3 linked regions of the Homo sapiens genome follow. The protein of the gene in region 2 purifies or fractionates together with the protein of the main gene of each other region. This does not show direct contact. Each region holds a gene or a part of one and is shown on either strand. Other genes may lie near its edges. The genes, in order: RYK, CEACAM21 and PTPRS.

Evidence for each region.
Region 1: the proteins of CEACAM21 (region 2) and RYK purify together in Homo sapiens (affinity purification with mass spectrometry; 3 studies listed by BioGRID and IntAct, with this or other methods). This does not show direct contact.
Region 3: the proteins of CEACAM21 (region 2) and PTPRS purify together in Homo sapiens (affinity purification with mass spectrometry; 3 studies listed by BioGRID and IntAct, with this or other methods). This does not show direct contact.

What each region holds. Positions count from the first base shown.
Region 1 is NC_000003.12:134,156,810-134,160,461, forward strand, and holds the end of RYK (tyrosine-protein kinase RYK isoform 2 precursor), read right to left. Parts: intron 2,565-3,652; coding exon 2,428-2,564; intron 1,456-2,427; coding exon 1,344-1,455; 3' UTR 324-1,343; downstream 1-323. UniProt on the Homo sapiens protein: May be a coreceptor along with FZD8 of Wnt proteins, such as WNT1, WNT3, WNT3A and WNT5A. Involved in neuron differentiation, axon guidance, corpus callosum establishment and neurite outgrowth.
Region 2 is NC_000019.10:41,582,587-41,586,238, reverse strand, and holds part of CEACAM21 (cell adhesion molecule CEACAM21 isoform 1 precursor), read right to left. Parts: intron 1,893-3,652; coding exon 1,796-1,892; intron 797-1,795; coding exon 744-796; intron 400-743; coding exon 368-399; intron 86-367; exon of another isoform or gene 44-85; intron 1-43.
Region 3 is NC_000019.10:5,330,753-5,334,404, forward strand, and holds part of PTPRS (receptor-type tyrosine-protein phosphatase S isoform 1 precursor), read right to left. Parts: intron 1-3,652. UniProt on the Homo sapiens protein: Cell surface receptor that binds to glycosaminoglycans, including chondroitin sulfate proteoglycans and heparan sulfate proteoglycan.

The sequences.
Region 1 (3,652 bases), on a different chromosome or scaffold from region 2:
GTAGTGGCAGGTACCTGCAGGCCTAGCTATTTAGAAAGCCCATTCAACTCTGCTTTAGGCCAACTAAAACTGAGCATAAATACATACATATCCCTTACTTGCTGGTTCTGGAGAAATGTTTCAGTGTTTTAATACTTCCTTATAACATTAATTCCAACTTTTTACTAGAACCTGGAGTCTGAGCCAGCTTAACTGTGTTAGGGCTTTGGAACTTGACTGGAACATCATGAAATAAAACACAAATGTCTGGCTGTTGAATGTTCAAAGACTTACCAGACACAATAACCAATCATTCATTATGAAAAATAATTTCAATACTGTCATAATATAAAACAAATCCTTTAATTTTTCAAGTGTTTAAAAAACAATTTTATACTTAAGCCAGCCTTGAAGATAAGCACAAAATTTACCAGTTTACATTTAAAAAACAAACAAAAAACGACAACAACTCAAGCACCCGCTCTGTGCATAGCACTATTCTAGGTGCAATAAAAGGGAATCTTAACCTTAGAAATATGAGTTCACTTTCTGGAATTGTATTATCTCCTTTTCCAGAGAGTAAAAATAAATAAAATCACCATTGTTTACTACAGATCTGCCCCAAACCACATCTGGTTCACAGAAAGGCTAATTTCTGCCAAATTAAAGATGTAATGAACTCAGTTCCTGCTTTCCCAAAAACACGAAAGCAGAATTCCTTTTCACTGAAAAAAATAAACAGTTTTCCATGCAAGGGCAGTTTGCTTCTAATAAGTATTTTTAAAAAAATTTTTTTTTCCTCTAGCTTTTCTTTAAATTTTCTTCCTCTAATATTGCCTTTTCTTGTACAAGGCAGACCAGGTATCTTTTTATGCTGTTTTTCCTTTACTAAGAAAAGTATTGCATCTTGAAGACAAACCATTTCCCAGAGTAGTGATAAAAAATAACACTAAAAAAACTTTAAAGGTGAGTCACTTACATCACCTTGATGAAGTAAAAAAATAAAAAGCAGTTGGCACTAAGATAGCTAATTCCAAATATCTGTGTCTAAACAATTTTAAAAACTGTTTATTTATTTTGTAAGAATGTACCCCTAGTCCAAAGTAAGTATGTTTTAAAAAATTTTGGCCAAAAAATTTACAAAAACCCTTTCAGTTCAACCTAATAAAAGTGATATCTAGAAAATATGCCACATTATTAAGTCTGTCTTAAAAAGTTCAGATTCTAAAGCATTTCTAAGGCACGGTGTTCTGGAAGACAAATGTGCTTCTGTTGGCGTTGTGTTAGATACAAAGCATCCCTGACAGGCTTCAAGTGAGCCCCGACAGGCACCTTCTTCCTGATGGTGTGGGATTGGAGAGGAGTCAGACGTAGGCCCCCAGGGCTGCATGAAACTCTGTTAGGCACTGTACCAGCTGCTGAAACTTGGGCCTCTCCTCTGGATCTAAGGCCCAGCAACAGGCCATCACAGCAAATCTGCAGAGTGACAAAAATGAAAATTTGGGCTAGTAAGGATACAGTATTCATAACTTTTGCTCAGTTTGATGCCAGTTATGTTGCCTGTCTAAAGGTGGGTATGGAGAGGATGATATATTAAAAACGGATCCATTTTACTATCTGTTGGCAGCTCTAGAAAGAAGCTAAAAGAAATTATTTGGATTATGTGTGAATTTCAATTCTTCATGACAACATATCAAAATATTTCAGCAAATACAGAGATTTCATGTAAAAACCTAAAACACAGTAAAAAAAGAATGTGTGTTTTCCTGTAGTTAAATTAAGAAAAGAACTTGGAGGAAGAGAAAGTTTTATCTAAGTTCTATGAACCCTGGATCTAGAGTAAAATCAGTACAAAAGCTGCCACCTTGTCATGGTGCAGAAACCTTCAGGAGGTTCTGGAACTGAGAATATACTCATCTGTACGATCAATCACCCTGCATAGCCTCCTGTTTATCCCATTCTCATTACATGGCAAGATAAGCTATGTGATAGAAGCAGGAAACAGAAAGCAACTATTTGGCTTACTAGTCCAGATCATCTTCCCTGTATTAGCTGATACTAACTGGCAAGGCAAAATGACAACGAGAGAGGTTTTTTATAACTACTATGTCCTTTATAACTACTTTATAACTATAAAAGTCAGATACTCACTTTATATAGAATAACTGACGTAGCATTCAATTTTCTTAGTACGTCCTCTCAGACTAATTTATAGTGCTTAGATTATGCACTATAAAATAAAATGCAAGACGTTCTAATATCAAATGCATGAAAGAGTGAACGAATCTCCCTGACTTTGTGGTTTTTTATAAGAGTCTAATTTAAATCCAAAGAGTCATTATTCTCAAAAGGGAAGGCTCTGTGTGAATATGGAAACCTGCTCTTTTTCCTTTATTCCAATATAGTAAATGGAATAAAACTCATGCCTTCAAGCTCAAAAAAACTCACAATTCATCAGGACAGTTGATTGGCTGGGCTATTCGGTAACCATCTTTCAGGTATGCGGCCATCTCGAAGGGGTCAATGTCCACGTAGGGAGTCTGGCCCAGAGTCATGAGTTCCCACAGCGTCACTCCAAAGGCCCACTAGTAAAGGAGCAGAAGCACAATGAGGGGACATTTAAAACAACAGTCAGGGGGCTAGCGCCCACAGCCAGCTACAGGACAAAAAATAACAGCTCAACTCATGCTTTGGAAAAGCGAAATGTTATTTACAAAAAAATGTCTATCATACACAGTTAGTTTCCCTTGCTAAGATAAAAAAGAGTGCATCCAATATTAGTATTATAAATTCTAAGTAATTAGATCCATTGGAAGTAATAGTTTACTGTTGATTACAAGCTACGTATTATGAATTATGTCCAAGATTCTTCTAATATGAGAATTTGTAACTTTAAATATTATAGCTAGTCTGCATAATTGAGAAGTGGAAAATGAACAGAATTTTAGTTTAATTAAAGGGAAGAGCATCCTAAGTGAAATACGCAAATGAGGGGAAATATAAGAAGTCATGGATTTTTACTGTATTTAAAGTTTTAAATTAAAGGATTAAAAAAACTTCCAACCTTGCTTGAGTAAGCAATCAGGTTTATTTAAAATCAGCAGGTAAACTACAGAAAGGAACAGGAATAGTAAACAGTGGCAACAGTGTCCATTCATGGTCCGTTCGGGGCTCTCCATTTTGGCCAATTCCTGGCTGTACTTGGCTCCTGGAGAGCGTGCAGGGGGCGGGGGGCAGGCAACGTCTCTACACAGAGCTGCTGCCACATGGCTGGGAAGGACTCAGATCCGGTACATCCACTGATCTGCCGCCAAGTGTGAACCCTGAGGTCAGAACAACTGAACTTGGATGAGGAGGGGGATACCTGTGTACTGTAGTATCAGGTTTATGAGTACCTACAAATTCAAATCATTTTGCATCCTTCAATACATTTAATTTCCTCAATAAACCTGTGAGAATCATTGGTAGCTCAATTTTACAGGTGAGAAAACTGAGGCTCAGAGAAATAGCTTGCCCCAAAATACATATTTTAATGAGTAAAAGAGAAAAAAGTGAAAAAAAGAAAAGGAAAAAAGAGAAATACCAAACGCAAGTCAAATACAAGTCTGTTTGTAAAATCTAAACATGTTGCATTAAATTTTAGGTTATTATTTTTCAATAACAACAAAATCCC
Region 2 (3,652 bases):
CCCTGGGGCCCAAGGGACCAGAATATCTGTGGCCCCCACTCACCTCATAGATGAGAGCAGCTGCCCTGGTGCTGGGTAGGGGAATCTGGGCAGGGGAGAGAGGGGTGTCAGGGGACAGGGAAGGATTCCTGCTGTGTAGGAATTCCAGGGCTCTCCTCAGGTGATGGAGGGTCCCAGGGTGGGGTTAGCACAGGGAGTGGATGATCCTGGCCCTGAACAGAGGCCCAGCTCATGGCCAGGGCAGGTCTAACCTTATCCAAGTCATTCTGGGTAGGGTGGGTTTGTGCTGGGGATTGACAGTCCCCCTGCCCTGAGCCTGCACAGCTGGGGCCCCAGTGGAAATGGGATTGGGAACGGACAGTCTTACCTAGGAGATGGAGCTGTCAGAGGGTCCATGGCCTGGGGACAGAGACAAAAGTGAGCACGAGAGTGTTAGGATAGCTGGGCCCCTCCTGCAAGAGTGTGTGGGGGTCCTCAGTTCTTAGAGAATTGGGGAGAGGGAGCCTTTCTCAGGTTATTTTAGGGGTCAAGTAAGCAAGTGAGGTTGAGGAAGTGACCCATGACCCAGAGCCCGGAGGTTAGGGCTGACCCGGCCAGTTGGGGTTTCCTGTGTGATGTTTTATGGGATCCTCTTTGCAGCCCCAGGGATAGGGTCAGAGGCCCCTGGGTGTAACTGGCAGGAGTGGACAACTTGGGGCTGGCTTAGTAGTTCCCAGCCACACCCAGACTGAAGGGACACTCACCGGGGGTGGAGGCTGGGGGCTGCTGCTCCCTGAAGTCACTCTGATCGCTGGCCCTAGGAAAGGTCAGGGTTATTTGTGAAGGTGCAAGGTTAAAAGTCACAAATTGGAGTTAAAATAGGGGACCAGGAAAGGAGCCTATTTCCAAGAGGGGTATGGAGACCTCCTTTCTTTATGGAGTTCTGTGGTAGGAGGGGCCCAGGTGAGGGGAGTTGAGGAAAGGCCTTACAAAGCCACATCTGTCCTGGCCAGAGGGGAAGGACTCTCAGGCAGATGCTGGGCCAGGAGAACATTGATCCAGTGACACAGGAAAGGGACTGAGGACCCAGGGAAGGAATCAGACCACCAGGGGTTGCCTGAGAGGAAGGGTCAAGGCACCAGGGGGAAAGCAGGGCCAGGCACATGTGCAGGACACTGAGGGGACTGCATGCATCTTGGATTCTCCTGGAACTCAGTGTCCCTGCTGTGACCAGACACTCCACTCAGGGCTGGAGATGCTGAAATGGGACAATGATCTTGTCTTCTGTCTCTGCCCTTTGGCAAGAGACATAAACGACATTCCAGGATATGCCATATTGGGGCCCCGGTTCTCCCTTCTCACAGCTCAGTGTCTGCAGTTACCATGTCAGTCAAAGGGGTGCTGACCCCACCCAGCCCGTCCAGGCTGTTCCAGTCTCCACTATGTGATGATGCCCAGGATCCCCCCTCAGATGCCCTCTCACTGGGTGGATGGATTCAGTGAACAGGGGGAGGTACCAGGTATTGAGCACCGCTCCCCCCTGCTCCAGGCAGCTGTGGCTTTGCTGTGCTAGGAAACTAGGACCATGCTCAGGGGCATGGCCTTAATTGGACTGAATTCACTGAGGACAAAGCTGTTGAGGAAGCAGCCCAGGGTCAGCAGCTGGTGAGGAAGGTGCCATGGAATGAGAGGGAAGGATCCCTGGGGAGTCGGGAGGCTGGGGAGAGCCTGGCACTGAATACAAGACAGGGTCTCCTTCCTTCTCGCCTGGGGTCAGCGTGAAGGATGGGAGCAGAATGGGGAAAAGCTGTGGTACCTGCCAGTTTTTCGGAGGAGCAGGAAACACACAAGTGCAGCCACCAGAAGACTCCCAACCAGGACCCCGATCAGGATGCCTAGAGTGTTGTCATCTGCTGAAAGAAGAAGGCAAAGGGGATGAGGTCCAAATCTGTTCCAGGGGGAACCATGAGGGGCCTTGCAGGGCAGGGGCATGGTCAGGGAGGAAGGAAATGCCATGGAGCCTGAGTGTGGTCTGTTGTGCTGTCCTCATAGCTGGCTCCCTTGCTCTCCGTGGTTGCACCATTTTCTGTGTCTTAGGCTTGAATTACTGGGATGCATCAACTCCTACATTCTCCCACAGGAAGCCTGCACCTCATCCTGCTCCTGTGTTTTTTAGTCCCTCCTTCCTCTCACATCACTCCTCTTCCCCCTGTTTCTTTTTTTCCATCCCATGGCAGTCGTAAAGGGCAGGCCCTTGCTGCCAACTCAATGCTGATGAGCAGGGATGATGTTCATTGACTGTTTTCAGGGGCCTTCCACATGGAAGGCACAGTGGGAATCAATCTACCTGCAGCTTTTCTCACCCTCCCATTGCCTTGAGGGAGAAGGGTATGTGATATTGTGAAATACGTATTTGGTGTTCATCACCATTGATATGGTTAGGCTCTGTATCCCCACCCAAATCTCACCTTGAATTGTAATAATCCCCATGTGTTATGGGAGGGACCTTGTGGGAGGTAATTGAATCATGAGGGTGGGTTTTTTCCATCCTGTTCTTGTGATAGTGAATAAGTCTCAGGAGATCAGATGGTTTCATAAAGGGAAGCTTCCCTACACATGTCCTCTTGCCTGCTGCCATGTAAGACATGCCTTTCACCTTCCATCATGATTGTGAGACCTCTCCAGCCATGTGGAATTGTGAATCAATTAAACCTCTTTCTTCATACATTACCAAGTCTCAGGTATGTCTTCATTAGCAGTGTGAGAATGGACTAATACAGTAAATTGGTACCAGCTAGTGGAGTGCTGCTATAAAGATACCTGAAAATGTGGAAGTGACTTTGGAACTGGGTAACAGGCAGAGGTTGGAACAGTTTGGAGGGCTCAGAAGAAGACACAGGAAAAAAGTTTGAAACTTCCTAGAGACTTGTTGAATGGTTTTGATTAAAACGCTGATAGTGATATGGACAATAAAGTCCAAGCTGAGGTGGTCTCAGACAGAGATGAGGAACTTCTTGGGAACTGGAACAAAGGTGACTCTTGTTATACTCTAGAAAAGAGATTGGTGGTATTTTGCCCCTGCCCTAGAGATCTGCAGAACTTTGAACTTGAGGGAAATGATTTAGGGCAACTGGTGGAAAAAAAATTCTAAGCAGCAAAGTGTTCAAGATGTGACTTGGGTACTGTTAAAAACACTCAGTTTTATGTATTTACAAAGGTATGGTTTGGAATTGGAACTTATGTTTAAAAGGGAAGCAGAGCATAAAAGTTTGGAAAATTTGCAGCCTGATGATGCAATAGAAAAGAAAAATCCATTTTCTGAGGAGAAATTCAAGCCAGCTGCAGAAATGTGCATAAACAATGAAGAGCAAAATGTTAATCCCCAAGACAATGGCAAAAATGTCTCCAGGGCATGTCAGAGACCTTCCTGGAAGCCCCTTCCATCACAGGACTGGAGGCCTAGGAGGAAAAAATGTTTCCTGGGCCAGGCCCAGGGCTCCCCTGCTGTGTGCGGCCTAGAGACTTGGTGCCCTGCATCCCAGCCACTCCAGCCATGGCTAAAGAGGGCCAAGGTACAGCTGGGGCCATGGCTTCAGAGGGTGCAAGCCCCAAACCTTGGCAGCTTCCATGTGGTGTTGAGCCTGCAGGTGCACAGAAGTCAAGGATTGAGGTT
Region 3 (3,652 bases), about 36 Mb from region 2:
CCCCTAATGCCCTTCCCCAGCAGGGCCGGAGTCTGGGCTCCCAGGGCCAGATGGGGCCAAGAGAAAAAGTCCTGGGACCTGGCAGCCTCTCTGCACCCTGCTGATATCTGGGAGTTGAAGCCAGCACTGTTGCCGGAAACCCCGGCAGTTCACACTCTCTAGAATTCATCCGACAGGGGCAATTACCCACTTCCAATAATCAATGGGGCAGTGGAACCAGGACAGATGTGCAGAGGGAACCCATTAGCAATCTAAGCGTTCTGGCCCCGCGAGACGTCAGGGAGCGTGTTGGGTGGACGCTCAGGGACAAAGGCACCATCTGCCTGATTTCTCTCGCTGTCTTGGGTCTTCAGCATAAGTCAGGGCTTCTTTTTTTAAAAAAAAAAAAAAAAAAAAAAGAGAAGGCCTTGCTCTGTTGCCCAGGCTGGAGTGGAGTGATGCAATCATAGCTCACTGCAGCCTCAAACTCTTAGGCTCAAGCAATCCTCCCACCTCAGCCTCCCCAGTAGCTGGGACCGTACGTGTGCACCCCAACCCTCGGCTGATTTTTTTTTGTTTTTTGTAGAGATGAGGTCTCACTGTGTTGCCCAGTCTGATCTTGAACTCCTAGGCTCAAGCAATCCTCCCGCTTTAACCTCCCAAAGTGTTGGGATTATGGACGTGAGCCACCATGCCTGGCAAAATCAGGGTTTCTAAACCTCAGCACAGTGTACATGAGGGTGGGGTCATTATCTGGGATGGGGTCATCCTGGCCATTACACAGAGTTGAGCAGCATCTCTGGCTTCCACCTACTCCATACCAGCAGCACCCCCCTGGACATGACACCCAAAAATGTCCCCAGACGTTGCCAAGTGTGCCCAGGGGAGCAAAAGTGACCCCGGCTGAGAACCACAGCAGTACACTCAACGAGTAATACTGGTAACCCGGGTGCTCCAGCCCCAAGAGCAAACGACTGCGCTACAGAAAGAACGAGGGATGGAGAAGCAGGTCCTGCCGCCAGTAGATAATTCGCAGCCCTGCCCCGCGGGACAGCCGGCTTCCTTCTACGCAGTATTTAATTTAAGTCAAGTTTATCATTATGACCAATATTAATATAATCAGAGCCAACGTTTATCGAGCGCGGACGCTGGCCCAGGCCCTGTTCTCAGCACTCTCTGTAAGCTATCACACTGGTGCCTCTAAAGAACCGCAGAGGTGGCTGGGAGTCTTAAACCCATTTCACAGGCCTGGAAACTGAGGCCCGCGGACGGCAATGGAGGTGTCAGAAGTCACGCAACTTTTAATTGTTGGGGAAGGGGTCAAAGTCCACGGTGGCCCTGGATTTCTGTACTGTGCCATGTTAAGATGTTTCAACCCAAGGATGTTAAAATAGGGCAATTTTTTTTTTTTTTTAGACAGAGTCTCACTCTATCGCCCAGGCTGGAGTGCAAGTGGCATGATCTCAGCTCACTGCAACCTCCGCCTCCCAGGTTCAAGCGATTCTCCTGTCTCAGCCTCCCAAGTAGCTGCGATTACAGGTATGCACCACCATGCCCAGATTATTTTTGTATTTTTAGTAGAGGCGGGGTTTCACCATGTTGGCCAGGCTGGTCTCAAACTTCTGACCTTAGGTGATCTGCCTGCCTTGGTCTCCCAAAGTGCTGGGATTACAGGCGTGAGCCATCATGCCCAGCCAAAATTGGGCAATTTTACTTAAAATCTAGATTTCTGCTTTTCCTTGGAAAAACCAACAGATCTGGCCCTGGAGCCATTCAGGGCTTCCTTGGAGGTTGAAGAAGCCTTTTTGGCCCATACGACCCGCTGGAGTGGAGACTCCAGCCCTGACAGGCGTTATGGCTTGAGAATCACACACCCGCCATGGCTTCCTGCCTCGGTTTCTCCCTTTGGACTGGTGAAAGGGGTCCCTGTCCATCCTCCTGCGCAAGGCCCAGCAGCAGGCAGGCAGGCATGGCTGTGTGGTCTTGGGCAAGTTGCTCTCCCTCTCTGGGCCTTGGCCTGACAGATGTTCCAAGAAGCATTCCCAACATTCCAGGTTTTCTGTTGATCCTGATGTTGGCAGCCCAGCTCTGGGGGCTTTCAGAGAACTCTGACCGCACATCTAAAAAATGCAATTTGTTAGACGCGGTGGCTCACGCCTGTAATCCCGGCACTTTGGGAGGCCAAGGCAGGCGGATCACTTGATGTCAGGAGTTTGAGACCAGCCTGGCCAATGGGGTAAAACCCCATCTCTACCAAAAATACAGAAATTAGCCAGATGTGGTGGCGGGTGCCTGTAATCCCAGCTACTCGGGAGGCTGAGGCAGGAGAACCACTTGAACCCGGGAGGCGGAGATTGCAGTGAGCTGAGATCACGCCGTTGCACTCCAGCCTGGCGACAGAGCAAGACTGTCTCAAATAAATAAAATAAAATAAAAAATAAATAAAAAATGCCAATTCGCCAGGTGTGGTGGCTCACACCTGGAATCCCAGCATTTTCCGAGGCCAAGGCAGGCAGATAGCTTGAACCCAGGAGTTTGAGACCAGCCTGAGCAATATGGTGAAACCCATCTCTACAAAAAAAAAATAAATAAATAATAATAATAATAATAATAATAATACAAAAGTCAGCTGGGCGTGCTGGTGGATGCCTATAGTCCCCAGCTACTTGGGAGGCTGAGGTGGGAGGATTGCTTGAGCCCAGGAGTTAAGACACTGCAGTGAGCCATTATGGCATCACTGCACTCCAGCCTGAGCAACAGTGTGAGTCCTGTCACACACACACACACACACACACAATGCGATTCGAACTCCTTGGGGTGGGGGGTCCTGTGTGGTCTTCCCCAGCTAAAGTCAACTCTTCTCTTCTTGTTTCCGCCCCCCTCACCTCCAGCCACAAAGCAGCAGGTGCCACTCTCAGTCTCTGTCCTTGGTGCCCCCCACACCAGTTCATCTGTCTCCACTTATGATAGAGGCAATGTCAAAGCACCCATTTTACAGATCAGGAAACTGAGGCACAGAACAGCTTTATTACTAGCCCAAGCCCCACAGCTGCTTAGATTCTGGCTTCCAAGTTCCTTAGCAGCAGGTTTCCAGCAATCCTGATGGAATGAATGAATTAATGAACTGGTGAATATTCGAATGAATGCATGCATGCTCGCTCGCACACCATGCTTGTCAACCGATCACTTTCCTGAGTGCCCATCAAATGACTGCTGTTAAACCCCCAAATCCCCCCCAAACTCCCCCCTTTGGTGATCACTCGGGCCCACCAGGGGCTCTGGAAGTTGGGAGCCACATGTGGAGTCCCTGGAGTGCCTGGAGCTCCCAAGGCAGCCACGTGTCCTCCCTGTCCACCATCCAGGCCCCCTGTGGTTCAGCTCCCGCCAGTCGCCCAGTCCTGCCGCAGAAGTGGGGCGGCCTTGATTAAGCAGCCAGTGAAGGGGAACGCCCCAGTTTGCAGTGGCTGAGTCATCCTGACATCTCCCTGGTGCTGGACCCCATCGGGGGGCTGAGGGCGGGGTAGCGGGGCGCGGGTGGACACTGGAGAGCCCCTCTTGGGCAGGTCCTTCAACATATCAGTGTAGCTCCCATGTTGTCAAAAATAATAACAAAAACAGAATAGAGGTGGCAGCTACATTCTAGGTGCCGTTCTGAATCTGTGCTTACACACGT